Regions from separate parts of the Homo sapiens genome. Here region 2 is linked to region 1. A link means that fine-mapping ties the variant in region 1 to the expression of a gene that starts in the linked region. Tissue or cell type: fibroblasts. Region 1 holds a variant in brackets; the other region holds the start of a gene. All regions are shown on one strand. Distances are between the middles of the regions.

The links. PIP is the estimated chance that this variant, and not a neighbour inherited with it, causes the effect.
Region 2: it holds the start of UCK1, and the variant in region 1 is fine-mapped to the expression of UCK1 in fibroblasts (GTEx, PIP above 0.99).

What each region holds. Positions count from the first base shown.
Region 1 is chr9:131,471,120-131,479,218 of GRCh38, forward strand. It overlaps PRRC2B (proline rich coiled-coil 2B), which reads left to right. Exons shown (of 32, transcript NM_013318.4): 15 at 2,389-2,605; 16 at 3,335-5,416; 17 at 6,625-6,830; 18 at 7,355-7,500. Among named protein-coding and RNA genes, the nearest start is that of SNORD62A, 10 kb to the right of the region's middle. RefSeq lists a silencer at 7,243-7,537. The variant C/T (reference allele first, on the strand shown) is at 4,837.
Region 2 is chr9:131,526,596-131,534,694 of GRCh38, forward strand. It overlaps UCK1 (uridine-cytidine kinase 1), which reads right to left and starts at 4,668. Exons shown (of 7, transcript NM_031432.5): 1 at 4,472-4,668; 2 at 3,891-4,050; 3 at 2,893-2,989; 4 at 2,533-2,675; 5 at 2,349-2,443. The coding sequence starts at 4,579. RefSeq lists enhancers at 1,920-3,119, 3,825-4,738 and silencers at 4,154-4,203, 4,404-4,763, 4,904-5,073.

The sequences.
Region 1 (8,099 bases):
AAAGTAGTCACTTGCAAAGTGTAGGTACAATAATAGTTCTGTCATAAAGATTTGTTGGGAAAGTCATGAAGATCGTGTATCATAAATTGCTTTAATTAATTTTAGATTTCTGCTATGTCGTTTTGTCCTTCTTCTCATTCTTAATGTTCTTTGTGCTGTCTCTTTTTTCTTTGATTAGTCTTTCCCAAGGTTTGTCTAGTGCCTTTTTAAAATCAGTATTTGGGCTTCTTCATTCCTCTAACTTATTTGGGTTTTATTTTAATAATGCCTGCTTTTTCTTTTCTTATTTCCTTTAAAATATTATCATATACTTAGTTTATTAATTTTTGGCTTTTAAGATTCTCTTTGCAGTACTAATTTCTAATGTAGTTGCTCTGTGGTCAGATAATATGGTCTGTGTGATACAGACCAGGGGTCAGCAAACTTCTACTAATGACCAGATAGTAAGTCTTTTAGGCCTTGATCAGCTAGTCAGTTTTGGTGTTGTAGGACAAAAACAGCCATAAACAATAGTAATTGAGTGAACATGGTTGTTTTTCCATAAAACGTTACTTGTAAAAACTGGCAGCAGGCTGAGTTTTGTTTAATGGCTGTAGTTTGCTGACCAACTCCTGACTTAGGTTGCTTGACATTTGTTGGGTTTTCTCTGTAGCCTCTTCCATGGCAATTCTTTTTTAACATTCTACATTTGCCTGAAAAGACTGTATTCTCTGGTTGGAGATAGTCCATTAAGTTGAGCATGCTAATTGTGTTGTGCAAATGTCTTCATCATTGCAAGTTTTTATCCCTTTGACCAGTTACTAAAAGGTGTTTTAAAATGTCCCACTATGATGATGGATTTGTCAAATCTTCTTTGGGAGCCTGTCAGTTTTTGCTTTGTCTATCTGGAGGCATACAGGTTTAGAATTTCTGTATCTTGTTCCTTTTATCCTTATGTAGTACCTTTGTTGTCATTAATAGTGCTTTCTATCTTTATTGCCTACTTTGATAGCAATATAATAATTATAGTTTTCTGTTGATAAGTATTTGAAGTCTTTTGTTCCAATTTTTACTGTTAGCCTCTTTGAGCCCTTATGTTTTGGGAGTGTATCTTTGTATCTACAAGATGTGTATAGCTTTACCACTCTGAAAGTCTATGACTTTTAATTGCAAAAGTTGGTCCTTTTAGATTTATTGGGATGATGATTATTATTATTATTATTTGAGACAGAGTCTTGCTCTGTCATGCAGGTTGGAGTGCAGTGGTGCAATTTCAACTCACTGCAACCTCCGCCTCCCGGGTTCAAGCGATTCTTCTGCCTCAGCCTCCCAAGTAGCTGGGATTACAGGCGCCCACCACCACGCCCAGCTAATTTTTTTTTTTTTTTTTTTTTTTGAGACAGAGTCTTGCTCTGTCACCCAGGCTGGAGTGCAGTGGTGTGATCTCGGCCTACTGCAACCTCCACCTCCCGGGTTCAAGCGATTCTCCTGCCTCAGCCTCCTGAGTAGCTGAGATTACAGGCACCTGCCACCATGCCTGGCTGATTTTTTTGTATTTTTAGTAGAGACGGGGTTTCACTATGTTGGTCAGGCTGGTCTCGAACTCCTGACCTCAAGTGGTCTACCTGCCTTGGCCTCCCAAAGTGCTGGGGTTACAGGCATGAGCCACCATGCCCAGCCTTATTGGGATTATTATATTTAGATATTCCAACTATGATATTTCATGCATTCCATTCTTATTCTTCTCTTTCTGTGCCTTTTCTTCTAATTCCTGCCTTTTCTTGGTCCTATTGTTTTTCTTTTGCTTCTACATTTCATTTCTATATGTTAGTGGTTACGTGAAAATTCTAACATGCACCTTCAACTTAGCAAAGCATTTGGGGAGGTAGAAATCTGAAGTCTTTGTCCCTTAAACCTCCATGAAAGTAAGCATGTGAGTCTGAATTCCTGGGAGGGGGACAATTGTTTCCCTGCCCTGGTCCAGGCCAGACAGACCCGCCAGTCTGTTCCTGGTAGTAAAGCGCATGTGTCTATCTAATGTGCCTTTTGAGGATGTGGCCCTTTTGGGTCTTTGTTTTAAACAATGTCTCAGTTGTATCTCCCTGCCCTGTATAGAAAGGCTTCATCCCCTGTCCTGAGTGTTAAGGACCAAGCCTATATCTGACAAATGTGCTTTTCTTGCCCCCTTCCTTGGACAGGTCTTTGAACCAGGCAGGGTGCATGTGTGTGTGCCTTCAGAGGTCCTCAGGTCAGGAAAGATTAAGAGCCCTATGATGTGTAGGTGGGTGGGGTGCTGTATCCACATGAAAGTCAGGGTAACTGTTAACTTCTTTGGGCCTTTGGTTGACCCTGAGATTGGAGCAGGGCTTTCTAAATGAGATGATGTAGATCAGTCTTTGCCTTCTTCAGGACTGATGAAGCCCATGATGCCCCAGGAGTCCCTCAATGGGACAGGCTGTCGCTCTGAGGATCAGAACTGTGTGCCCCCACTCCAAGAAAGAAAAGTGACCCCCATCGACTCACCCCCTGTGTGGAGCCCAGAGGGCTACATGGCACTGCAGAGCAAGGGCTACCCGCTCCCGCACCCGAAGTCGAGTGACACCTTGGCTATGGACATGCGTGTCAGGTGAGATGAAGCCTGGTCCTGCTGCCTTGCCACTGAAGGAGGACTCCAGGTCCTAATTGAGAGGGCCCTGGGATGAGCTACCATCCTAGGAGACACTGCCCACGGGAGACGTGCTCCTTGAAGGGACTCCTGGTTCCTCTGGGGAAGGAGAGTGTGAGGAGGATTGCTTGAATGCTTTGTCCAAGAGGCTCTTTTCAGATGGTGAGACGTAAGGTGAAGGAGAAGTCCCGGGGTCCTCAAATCCTGGGCACAGGGCAGGCGGGTGGGGGCTTCACAAGGCAGGTGGGGTCCAGAGCATGGGTCTTGGCTCATTTCTGTGGAAGTAAACAGAGTTAGCCCTGCCACCCCCATAGCCCCAGACTCTTCACGGCCTCCCAGGCTCCAGCTTGCTCTTGCTCTTTGACCCGGAGGATTGCCTGGCTCCTCTGTCTCCAGGGGGCACACCGTACCCAGCCTGCGGCCACGACAGTCTTCACTCTCAAGGACTCCAGGGGCCACCGACCAATTCATGGCCTGGCATTTCTGAGACGTGTTTAAAGATAGAACAAATGTTGATGCTTATGTTTTTTTTTGGTTGTTGTTTTTTGTTTTGTTTTTCTAGCTTTCTTTTTAAAAAGTGTTTTAGTTTTTGTTTTTGTTTTTTCTTTTTAAAACTAAGCTCTGTGTTCAGCATGGAAACCAGGAACCAGGCTCCAATCGCATTGACTGATTTTTCTGGTTCCTTTTCAGGAATGAAAGCTCTTTCTCTGCCTCACTCGGAAGGGCAGGGGGCGTAAGTGCTCAGCGCGATCTCTTTGAGGAGAGAGGGGAGGAGTACTTGAGTGCTTTTGACAAGAAGGCCCAAGCAGACTTTGACAGCTGTATCTCTTCTCAAAGAATAGGCCAGGAGCTTTTGTTTCCACCCCAAGAAAATGTTCAGGATGCAGGTGCTCCTGGGGGTCACACCCAAAACCTCAGGTGTTCCCCATTGGAGCCTGACTTTGTCCCAGATGAGAAAAAGCCAGAGTGTGGCAGTTGGGATGTTAGCCACCAGCCAGAGACCGCTGACACAGCCCATGGTGTTGAGCGGGAGACACCCCGGGAGGGGACGGCCTTTAACATCTCCTCCTGGGACAAGAACGGGAGCCCCAACAAACAGCCATCCTCGGAGCCTGAATGGACTCCCGAGCCCCGGAGCTCCAGCAGCCAGCACCCGGAGCAGACGGGCAGGACCCGGAGGTCGGGACCCATCAAGAAACCAGTCCTGAAAGCCCTCAAGGTGGAAGACAAGGAGAAGGAGCTTGAGAAGATTAAGCAGGAGCTAGGGGAGGAGAGTACCCGGCTGGCCAAGGAGAAGGAGCAGAGCCCCACGGCAGAAAAGGATGAGGACGAAGAGAACGATGCCTCTCTGGCCAACTCCTCCACCACCACTTTGGAGGACAAAGGCCCTGGCCATGCCACTTTTGGCCGCGAGGCCACCAAATTTGAAGAGGAGGAGAAACCTGACAAGGCCTGGGAAGCCAGACCCCCACGAGAGTCCAGCGATGTTCCCCCCATGAAGAGAAATAACTGGATCTTTATTGATGAGGAGCAAGCCTTTGGGGTCAGAGGACAGGCCCGGGGCCGGGGCCGTGGTTTCAGAGAGTTCACTTTTCGTGGTCGGCCTGCTGGCGGAAATGGGAGCGGCCTCTGTGGTGGGGGGGTCCTGGGGGCCCGCAGCATCTACTGCAGCAGTCAGCGCAGCGGCCGTGGCCGGGGCCTGCGAGAGTTTGCGCGGCCAGAGGACTGCCCCAGAGCCAAGCCCCGACGGAGAGTTGCCAGTGAGACCCATAGCGAGGGCTCAGAGTATGAAGAACTTCCCAAGCGCCGCCGGCAGAGGGGCTCCGAGAACGGGAATGAAGGCTCGCTCCTGGAGAGGGAGGAGAGCACCTTGAAGAAGGGCGACTGCAGAGATTCTTGGCGGTCCAACAAGGGGTGCTCTGAGGACCACAGCGGTCTAGATGCCAAGAGCCGAGGCCCTCGGGCCTTTGGGCGAGCCCTCCCTCCCCGGCTGAGCAATTGCGGGTATGGACGGAGAACCTTCGTCTCCAAAGAGTCACCCCACTGGCAGAGCAAAAGTCCAGGCAGCTCTTGGCAGGAATATGGCCCTTCCGACACATGCGGATCCCGGCGACCTACAGACAGAGACTATGTCCCAGATTCCTACAGACACCCTGACGCATTTGGTGGCCGGGGCTTTGAGGACAGCCGCG[C/T]GGAGGACAAGAGATCCTTCTTCCAAGATGAACACGTGGCAGATTCTGAAAATGCAGAGAACCGGCCCTTCAGGAGAAGGCGCCCCCCACGCCAAGATAAGCCCCCTCGATTCCGGCGCCTCCGGCAAGAGCGGGAGTCCCTGGGCCTGTGGGGACCCGAGGAGGAGCCCCACCTGCTGGCAGGTCAGTGGCCAGGCAGGCCCAAACTGTGTTCTGGGGACAAGAGTGGCACTGTGGGCCGCAGGTCCCCTGAGCTCTCCTACCAGAACTCCTCCGATCACGCCAATGAGGAGTGGGAGACGGCCTCCGAAAGCAGCGACTTCAGCGAGCGGCGGGAGCGGCGGGAAGGCCCTGGGTCCGAGCCCGACTCCCAGGTGGATGGTGGCCTGTCGGGGGCTAGTTTGGGTGAGAAGAAGGAGCTGGCCAAGAGGAGCTTCTCCAGTCAGAGACCCGTGGTTGACAGACAGAGCCGAAAGCTGGAGCCGGGAGGGTTTGGGGAGAAGCCCGTTAGGCCAGGTGGTGGTGACACCTCCCCTCGCTATGAGAGCCAACAGAATGGGACGCCTTTGAAAGTGAAAAGGTAAAACCAGACACCATCTGGGCCCTTTTTGTTGTTGTGTTCTGTTCTCAGCAGCACTGAGTTCACGCATGCATGCCGATGCCGCCGTGTGTCGGGGCTGGGGGCCTGCCCCCAGGCCGTCTGTGCGCGTCTCCATTGCCTGCCCCCACATTGCCTGTCTGCTTCTCGTGGTGGTGTTATTGTGGCTAGAGCTCCCACCCCCACCCCCACCCCAGTGGTGCTCTTGAGGCCACTGTCCAGCACCTGACCTGAGAGTCCAGTCATGTGTCCCTGGAGCCCCGCCGAGGGGCCGCTGCAGCGAGGAACGTTGCCTGTGCACAGTGCCAGGTGCCGGTCAGTCCACCAGAGTCCTCTGCTCCGGAGTTGCTGCCAGGCGGCGTCCTAGGGGGCATCGCTGGCCTCGTGGCTGCATGGAAGTGGCTCTTCCTAGATGGTTCTGCTTCTCCACTGTGAGGAGACGTGGCCCCACGGTGGGGTTGCCACCTCAGCATGGCAGGAGCCCAGCAAACGCAGAGGGGAGCAGGCTGCACATGGTCTGGCGAGCACCTCTTCCACAGCCAGAGGCATTCGGGTGATGACCTCTGCTCAGGGACCAGGAGAGGGTCCCCTGCACAGTCTGGGTTGACTGACTGCACTTGGCTTGTGCCTCGGACAGGGAGGTGCAGGGGCTGCTGAGGCCTTCCCTGTCCTCAGCATACTGAGGAAGATGGCTTCACACCTCCACTCTCCTTAGAATTCAAGGCAGAGAAACTCCCAGAGAAGGAGCCACAGGGAACACCGACTCTTTCAGGTGGCATCTAATCCAGCTTTCCAGGCGCCAGAGGCTGACCCTTGGCTTCACCTCAGTTTTCTGCCCCAAGGGCCCTCCGGCAGGGCAGTCCTGGAGAGGAGCAGAAATGCTGGCGTCTCCATTCTGAGCATATTCCCCTTGTCTCTCTCCCCCCTACACTCTGAACATAGCATGTGGGAGAGCCCTGGGGAGCCACTTTCCCCAGGAGCAGGCAGAGCCGGTGGGGGCAGCCTTACACGTATGTTTGCACACGGACATGGATGCACTGTGGCCAGCCTGCCGCTCCTCCCCACCCGAGGAGTCAGCTAGAGGAAGTGGGCCTAGATCAGGGTGCCGGGCTTGTGTGCAGGCTGTGTGCACGTGCGGTGTTTTCCCTCCTTCCCCAGCTCTGGTTAACAAGATCCTCTTTCCCTTACAGATCCCCAGACGAGGCCTTGCCTGGAGGTCTTAGTGGCTGCAGCAGTGGGAGTGGCCACTCCCCCTATGCCCTGGAGCGGGCAGCCCATGCCAGTGCTGACCTTCCCGAAGCCTCCAGTAAAAAGGCAGAGAAGGAGGCCAAGTTGGCTGCTCCGAGGGCAGGTGAACAGGGAGAGGCCATGAAACAGTTTGACCTGAACTATGGAAGTAAGTCATCCTCATATCTTCAGGGGAAAGAACTCAGGCAGAACCAGGGGCCATGCAGTCCTCGGGCCTCCCGAGTTTGCCCTTGCACTGAGTACCTTAGCTTTCGGAACAGCTCGGCCAGGCCCTGGGCTGGGTTCTGGGGCTGTAGAGGTGAGCAGAGTAGGTAGGATTCCCACCGAGTGTTGCTCACAGCCCGTTGAATCCCCGTGACACCCTGCAGCTTCCGGGCTTTAAAGAGAGGAAGCCTGGGGCCCAGAGACGTTCGGTGGTGTGTCCGAGGTCACACACAGCTGTAGGAGCAGAGCTGGGGTTTAAGCTCTTTGCGTGTTCTCTCAGTTGTGCCCTTGGGCCTCTTTGGTTTGGGGTAACAATGTGTTAGATCAGAGGCGGCCTGAGAAAAGTGCGGAAGTCCTGTCCAGGTTTCTGTCGAGCCTGATGCTAGATCTCAGGCGCCTGTTGAATTGGGTTGTTCTTGTCTCCTGGTGAGTGGAAAGACTGTTCCTTCTCGTGAAATCTTGGTTCAGGTGCCATCATTGAAAATTGCGGGTCCAGCCCCGGGGAGGAGAGTGAGGTGGGTTCTATGGTGGGCGAAGGCTTCATCGAAGTCCTGACCAAGAAGCAGCGCCGCCTGCTGGAGGAAGAGAGAAGAAAGAAGGAGCAGGCCGTGCAGGTGAGGGGCGGAGGGTGGGGGGGCATGGGGCTGGAGGGCAGGCTGGCAGATGCCCAGGAAACCCAGAGCCAGAGGGTAAGGGAGTTCTCGGTCAAGCTCAAGGTGGCAGAGAGGAAGAAAGGAGTATTTAGCAAGCACACATTGTCTCCCCGTTCCTGCTATTACCAAGGCCCTTCTATCAATGTAGGAATAGGTGGTGGCATCACTGTTATGCAGTGGAAGAAACCGAGTCTTGAAGAGGGTGACTTCTCTAGGGTGATAACAGTGGAAACTTGTCCAAGGCAAGATGCAGACCTCCGTCACCTCCCAGCTTCTCCTTCCTCCCCACTCCTCATTCCTGAGTGGAATGAGATTTGTCTCCCTCAAGTCAAGTGGATCGTGAACGCTATACTAAAATGGAGTCAGGGCTGGACCTGCACACAGATTACAGTCCGTTGGCCTTTCAGGTCTTTCTTGGGGGGTGCTTTGCTTGGCATCGCAGTTCTGCTTGAGGTTTTGGGAGACGAGCGTTCCACACATCTCTGGAGCATTTTCAGGTGGTGTGATTTTTGGTACCTGGGATACTTATCCTGGGGAGAATTTGTCAGTCTTGGTGCCTT
Region 2 (8,099 bases), 55 kb after region 1:
TTAGGGAAGGGGAAGCAGCCTGGAGAACATGGCTGAATCAGACAAAGCTGAGGGAAGAGGGAGGGCAGGGTCTGGGCCGAAGGACGGAACTTGGAACGGTGCGTGCTGCTGGCGTGTGGATTTGGGTCAAGAAGGCGGCAGAAGAGACAAGCTGCAAGAGGCAGACAGGGACCAAGTCCTGGGGACAGCTGTGTCTGCAGTTGGTGGGACCCCATCTCATGAAAGCACGAGCGCAAGGGCGAGGGCTGCTTTCTATTCTAGTCTGATAGTCTGACGGGCTGGAGGAGTCCGGGAGAGCTGACAGGGGTCTTAACCGCCAGCAGGGATGGGCCTGAATACAGTTGGGAAATACCTACGGGGTCCAGGCAGAGGACTGCACAAGCCACTCAACATGAAGGTGAAGGAAAAGGAGGCTCAAGAACGGCTCTGGGTGGGGCTGGGGCCGGGTGCGGTGGCTCACGCCGGTGATCCCAGCACTTTGGGAGGCTGAGGTGGGTGGACTGCTTGAGGCCAGGAGTTTGAGACCAGCCCAGCCAACATGGCAAAACCCCGTCTGTGCAAAAAAAAAAAAAAAAGGAAAAATTAGCCAGGCGTGGTGGTGCGTGCCTGTAGTCTCTGGCTACTCAGGAGCCTGAGGTGGGAGGATCACTTGAGAGTGGAAGGTGGAGGCTGCAGTGAAGCAAGATCTCACCACTGCACTTGGGCCTGGGTGGCAGAGGGAGACCCTGTCTCAAAAAACAAGCAAGCAAACAAACCAACCAAAAACATCTCTGGGGCCTGGGCCCAGAACATAGCAGGTGACAGCACTTCCTCTACTCAGGTCGCTGAGGCAGATTTGATATCCAGAGTTTTACTGCGAATCACCTACTTTTTGCCAAATATCTTTCTGTGAATGAGAGACTAAAACAAGTTAACTTTACTTTTAAAATTATATTTTAGAAATTTCAGACAGCATGAATGCAAAAAAAAACAAAAGTTTTCTTTATATAGCAGCCAATAGGCCAGGCATAGTGGCTCACACCTGTAATCTCAGCACTTTGGGAAGCTGAGGTGGGAGGACCACTAGATCCCAGGAGATGGAGACCAGCCTGGGCAACACAGGGAGACCCCATCTCTACAAAAAATTTAAAAATTAACCGAGCATGGTGGTGCACGCCTGTGGGCCCAGCTACTCGGGTTGCTGAGGTGGAAGGATCGCTTGAGCTTAGGAGGTCAAGACTGCAGTGAGCTGTGATTGCACCACTGTACTCCAGCCTGGGCAACAGAGCAAGACTCTGCCTCATTAAAAATAAAATTTAAAAAAAGGCCAGGCACAGTGGCTCAATCCCAGCATTTTGGGAGGCCAAAGTGGGTGGGTCACTTGAGTCCAGGAGTTCGAGACCAGCCCAGCCAACATGGCAAAACCCCATCTCCACTAAAAATACAAAAATTAGCTGGGTGTGGTGGCGTACGCCTGTAATCCCAGCTACTCGGAAGGGTGAGACAGGAGAATTGCTTAAACTTGGGAGGTGGAGTTTGGAGTGAGCCGAGATCGTGCCATTGCACTCCACCCTAGACGACAAAAAGAGACCCTATCTCAAAAAAAAAAAAAGCAGCAGATAGAACTTACTTGTCCTACATTATCAAAGGCAGGAATCTTGGTTTCAGTTCCTTTGTGCTGTATTTTTACCTTAACAGGCAAAATGTTCCCGTGCAAAACACTCCCATTTGAGTAGAGCCACGAGTCCCACCAAGCCAGAAACACAAGATGGAGAAATGGAGAAAAGACAGGTGGGTGTGCAGCGGGGAGTTCCTGCTCTCTGCGAGCCAGCTGGGATCTGGGCACAGCGCTCACTCCAAGATTTCAGAGCACTGGCCCAGAGCAGCCTGGGGTCACAGACCCTGGAGGAGCAGCTCTGAAGCACCTTCTGAGGGCCAGATCCCGGCCTTGGCAGTGAACAGACTAAAGTGCTCCTGGGCTTCCCCACTCTGCGGGGAATAAGCACCCAGGACGTGTCAGATGATGGTAAGTGCCCCGGAAAAAGGAAGCAGGCAGAGAGGCTGGCGCTGGGTGCAGAGGGTTTTCAGTGTTGAATGGGGACGCTGGGCAAGGGCCTGAGGCAGGGAGGAAGCGGCCAGTGTGAATGTGGGGGAGATATGGGGCTTTTTTAGGCAGAGGGAGGAGCAGGCACAGAGAATGTTTTTACAGCTGAGAACTACTCCCAGGGTATGTGGCCATAATGAGCCAAATTCTTCTCCTTTTTTTCAATCAGATCACTGTCACCCAGCACTAAGCCCTCTCACAGTACTGGGTCCCATGTGTCCTTGTGAAAGGGGAAAATGGGCTCTGAAGCAGCGAGCACAGGTACCGGCAGGCAGAACTCCTCGAAGGCCGGCTTCACGAAGGTGGTGTACTGCGTCAGAATCTGCTCCAGGTCCCTCCCTCGGCGCACGTCCCGGAGAACTGCAGCGGCAAGGGGCAGGCGTGCTTCAGACCTCAGGACCTGCCGCCAGCCTCGGCCAGGCAGGCACGGAGGCCCGCGGCCGCCTTACCTCTTCGAGACAGCCTGACGTCGGAGTCGGTGTCCACGAAGAGGCGCAGGTGGAACATGTCCCGGATCTCCTGGCTGTAGAACACCAAGATGCCCTCAAACAGAACCACGTCCGCAGGGTAGACCACCGTGGTCTCTGGTAACCTGAGGGGCGCACGGGGAAAGGGGCTCTGCTGCAGACACAGGGTCTCCAGGCCACACACACAGTCAGCTTCCATTGCAGGGACACTGACTGTGGGAAGGGGTGGGGGACCCACAGAAACCAACCGGGGGAGGCCTGCCGCCAGGCAGGTCTGTGTGAGCCCGAGGGGACGTCCTAGCTGGCCCCTCTCCTCGGCCCTCCCTAGAACCACCTGCTTACCTTGAGTGTGTCACAAAATCATAGGTCGGCACCTCCACCGTTTTGCCCTCCACGATGTTCTTCAGAGTCCTGTGCATCAAATCATTATCAAAGGCATCTGCAGGGTTGGAGACAAAGGCAAGACAGGCAGATGCCCTCGTGCAGCGGACAGCAGGGAACCCTCTCTGCTCTGGGGTCAGCACAGCTGGGTGCTGGGGACACCGAGAACCCTAGCACAGGTAGACTAGGACTACGGCAGTGTATGTTTGGTAGCAACAGTGCCCTCTGCAGCCCTGCAGACCACAGGATGACCCTGTCCTTGCTGTTCTCGGGCTGTGCCACTGCCCAAGCTCTGTGCCCCTGAGATGCCGGAACACAGGGGTTTTCTGATCAGCTCTTCCTGGGAGGTGGGTAGGCTGGGCCTCTGCTTCTCTCTCTTTCTGGGACTAACTGGTTAGACTGCGGCTTTGCAGGCCTTCTTCCCACAAGTCCTTGGGAAAAGGCTGACCATGCCAGCCAGCCAGGGTGGAATCTTCTAGCAGTGGCAGGTGTCTCCCTGCCGCATCTGCCCGTTTACCTGGCCCGGAGCTTCAAGCCACCAGCACTAGTTTACCTACCGCCTCCCACACTGGCCTCTCTGAGGACTTTGCCCCAAAGCACGGGAGGGCACAGTGGGCAGAGGTGTGTGTGGAGGGCCCTAAAGGCCCCAACGTGGGAAGGGAAGATGGGAGGATTTCTCCAGGATCACAGTTGTGGCAGGGCAGGGCAGGGCTCCCCACAGTGCAACAGGCTTCCTGACTGGCTCCAACCACGCTCCTGGGGGGACACTCAGGGCCCAGAGAACTCAGCAAAGTTCCCCTGACTTCACTGTGCAGCCAACTCCACTGCAGGCTGCGTGGCGAGTTGGGGGAACAGCCCAAGCGGGTCTGCATCCATCCAACCTTGGGCCCAAGCGCAGCTGGTTAGCGGCCGCCCAGAATGGGGTCTGCCCTCCCCACATCGTTGGGCTCGCGATTTACCTGGATGGTCAAAATTGTACTGTCCTTTCAAGGCCTTGGCCTTCTGCTCTGCCGTCAGGACCTTGTAGAACCTGTCCTGGCTCAGGATGACCACCTTCCGCTGCCGCTGTTCCACCTCGTTCTGTCCCAGCAACTCCATGATCTTCTCACACACGGTCGACTGGAGACACAGAAGCGGGATTCCCGCCTGGAACCGCTCGTCCTGTGACAGGCACGGGGCCGGCTTCTGGAGACACTGACCCACCCGCCCCCTGGGGGGTATGCTCGGAAGGCGGGAGGACACCAACAGGTGTGGATGGTCTCAGCGGAAGGGCCGCGGGGGCCCAACGGGGTTAGCACGGACTTGGGGCTCCGAGGAGCCCGGCCGGCGGAGAGGCTGTGGGGGAGCCCCGAGGCCCAGCGCCCCAACCCCTCGCCCGCCCCAGCCCGCCCCGGCCCATCGCGGCCTGCAGCCCCTTCGCTCCCGCGCCCTGCCCCTGCCTGGCAGGGGGCCCCTCGGCCGGGGCTGGGGTCTCCTCTCTGGACCGGGCCGCCCGTAGGCACCGGCGAGAGGCGAGACCCCGGCCCGCTCGGCCCCTTACCTTCCCGCTGGCAGTGCCGCCGCTCACCCCTATCAGGAAGGGCCGCTGGTGCGGACGGTCGGCCTCCGGCGCGGGGCTCTCGCAGTCTTCGCCTCCCGCCGAAGCCATCTCGGCCTCCGCTCCCGCGCATCGGGTCCCCGCGCCCGCCCCTTCCCCAGGCCCGGCGCGCCCGCCCAGCGCCGAGGTCGGAGGCAACCGGAGCGATCACTTCCGGGAGGCGCGCGGGGCACGCCGGGAGTTGTAGTCCACCGGGGGGGGGGGGGCCGCGCATGCGTGAGGGTGCAGGGCCCGAGGCCGGCACACCAGGAGCGCCCGCGTCCCATTGCGCCGAAAGCTGGCTGGCAGGGACTGCTGCGCCCGGGCCTCGAGCCGGCTACAAGGTCTCAGACTCAAGTGGCCCGGAAGGTGCCCGTTCCGCACCCCGAGGCTGGGGCTGCGCCTTCGTCCGAGTGCTTGCCTCTGCCTCGCGCTGCCTCTGCGCCAGTCCCGGGCCCTCCCCCGGCCGCCCCCGGGCCTGGCCCCCTCCAGCCCAGGCTCCTCTTGGCCATCGAGGCCTCCGGACTGTCCGGACGCCTCCCACCCCACCCGCTGCTGGAGCCGTCGGGGCGCCCCGGAACGTGGCGGGGGCTGTCGCCTGATGACTTTAGGCTCGCGCCTACAGCGCGCCAAGGAGGCAGAGGCCCATGTGCCGGGTTCCATCCCTGCCGCCCCCCCGCTCCGTGCCTGGCACAGAGAACGTGACAGGCAAATTCTGATCCATTGAAATTATGGATTTCCAGCCGGGCGCGGTGGCTCACGCCTGTAATCCCAACACTTTTGGAGGCTGAGGCGGGTAGATCACGAGGTCAGGAGATCGAGACCATCCTGGCGAACACGGTGAAACCCCGCCTCTACTAAAAATGCAACAAATCAGCTGGGCGTGGTGGCGGGCGCCTGTAATCCCAGCTACTTGGGAGGCTGAGGCAGGAGAATCGCTTGAACCCGGGAGGTGGAGGTTGCAGTGAGCCGAGATGGTGCCACTGCACTCCAGCCTGGGCCACAGAGCAAGACTCCGTCTCAAAAATAAAAAAGAGAGAGAGATAGCTAAGGCTCGGGGCAGAGCATGCTTTTCATATACAAAACAGACAACCCCGGGCGGACGCGGTGGCTCACACCTGTAATCCCAGCACTTTGGGAGGCCGAGGCGGGTGGATCACGAGGTCAGGAGATCGAGACCATCCTGGCTAACATGGTGAAACCCCGTCTCTACTAAAAATACAAAAAATTAGCCGGGCATGGTGGCGGGCGCCTGTGGTCCCAGCTACTCGGGAGGCTGAGGCAGGAGAATGGTGTGAACCCGGGAGGTGGAGCTTGCAGTGAGCCAAGATCACGCTACTGCACTCCGGCCTGGGGGAAAGAGTGAGACTCTGTCTCAAAAAAAAAAAAAAAAAAAAAAAAGACCCCAAGTCTACAGCCCCAGCTACCTCCTTATCTAATTCTCGCCTTTGGAGGCAAGATTCTCCCTGCCCTAAGTCACCCAGGGCCAGGTATCAGGTGACTAGAGACCACTCTGCAGCCCAGAGCCTGCTAGAATTACTCAAACTAGCCAATTTTAAACTCTTTCCCTGCCCTGCCAGGCCTTTTCCATGGAAACCCCAAGAAAGCCTCAGGCCTGGGCTCTCCCCTCGCCCCTGCTTCTGCCTCCTGACCAAACCTGGGGTTCTCTACTGAGAACCGTGCATGGCATGGGTGCCCCTTCTCTCAGGAAATGCGATCAATCTTGCGATGGCTTTGGCCTCTCCTCATGGTCATTCAGCCGTACCTCTGTAAATTAAGCCCCAGGCACAGAACAGTGCCTAGCAAACAGCCACGCTGCTGGCTTAGATCTGTCCAGGTGTGTGTCCCAAAGGTGGCCATCCCCCAAGCCAACTTTGAATTTGTATCAAGGGAGAGTTAGACACGGTTTCTTGCCATTTCTTCCCCTGTGGTCCAGCCACGTAGCGAAAGGCAGGGAAACTAGCAGAGTCTGACCAGGGGCTGTCCCTGATACCCCTGGCCTGGGTCTCGTGTGCCCTCTCTGGTGACTGGCCACAAGGCATGGGCTGCCAGGGCCAGTCAGGCTATTGCGTGGTTCCGCTCCCAAGGCAAAGGGACGCTTTGGGAAGGAGCCACTCCCTGGGAGCAGGCCCAGCACCCAGGAAGCCCACAGTCCAGTAAACAAGGCCCGGGCCCACACGGCTCAGGCCTCTGGGCCACAGTGGCTCCCCTATGGGACCATCCCAACCACCACCAAGCAGAGGGCCAGCCCCAAACCTCTAGCTGGTCCCCAACTCCCCATATTGTGAAGAAGAGTGACTTTTATGGGTTTTTTTTGTTCGTTTTGAGACGGAATCTTGCTCTGTTGCCCAGGCTGGAGTGCAGTGGCATAATCTTGGCTTACCGCAACCTCCGCCTCCCGAGTTCAAGCAATTATCCTGCCTCAGCCTCCCCGAGTAGCTGGGACTACAGGCACCTGCCACCAGGCCCGACTAATTTTTGTATTTTTAGTATAGAGACAGGGTTTTGCCATGTTGCCCAGGCTGGTCTCGAACTCCTATTCACCTGCCTCAGCCTCCCAAAGTGCTGGGATTACAGGTGTGAGCCTCTGTGCCCAGCCGAAGAGTGTCCTTAAAGAAGCATGAGTCAGCCGGGTGCAGTGGTTCACGCCTGTAATCCCAGCACTCTGGGAGGCCGAGGCAGGCGGATCACTTGAGGTCAGGAGTTCGAGACCAGCCTGGCCAACATGGTGAAACTCCATCTCTACTAAAAATACAAAAATTGGCCGGGCACGGTGGCTCACGCCTGTAATCCCGGCACTCTGGGAGGCTGAGGCAGGCGACTCACGAGGTCAGGAGTTCAAGACTAGCCTGGCCAACATAGTGAAACCCCGTCTCTACTAAAAATACAAAAAATTAGCTGAGCACAGTGGCGGGCGCCTGTAATCCCAGCTACTCGGGAGGCTGAGGCAGGAGAATCGCTTGAACCTGGGAGGCGGAGATTGCAGTGAGCCGAGATCACGCCACTGCACTGCAGCCTGGGCAAAAATAAATAAATAAATAAGTAAATAAATAAGCCGAGCATGTTGGCATGCGCCTGTAATCACAGCTACTCAGGAGGCTGAGGCAGGAGAACTTGAACCCAGGAGGCAGAGGTTGCAATGAGCTGAGATCGTGCCACTGCACTTTTTTTTCTGTCTGCAAAAAAAGAAAAAAATAAAAACTAGCTGAGTGTGGTGGCATAGGCCTGTGGTCCCAGCTACTGGGGAGGCTGAGATGGGAGGATTGCTTGAGCTTGGGAGGCAGAGGTTGCATTGAAGAGAAATCGCGCCGCTGCGCTACAGCCTGGGTAACAGAGCGAGACCCTGTCTCCAAAAAAAAAAAAAAAAACAAAAAAACGTTGTTGCTGAATTGGGGGGTGGGGGTAGGTGGAGAGTTGGGTGGAGGCTTGGAGCCCTCGGAGTTTGGGTTTCCCAGAGCCAGGCAAGGCAGTACTCCTAAGAGTGACCACTGTCTACTCTGGATTCATTCTCTTACCTGCTCTCTGGTGCGGGATGTTGAAAATCGGGGAGGCTGTGCATGTGGGGGAGTGGGGAGTATATAGGAAATCTCTG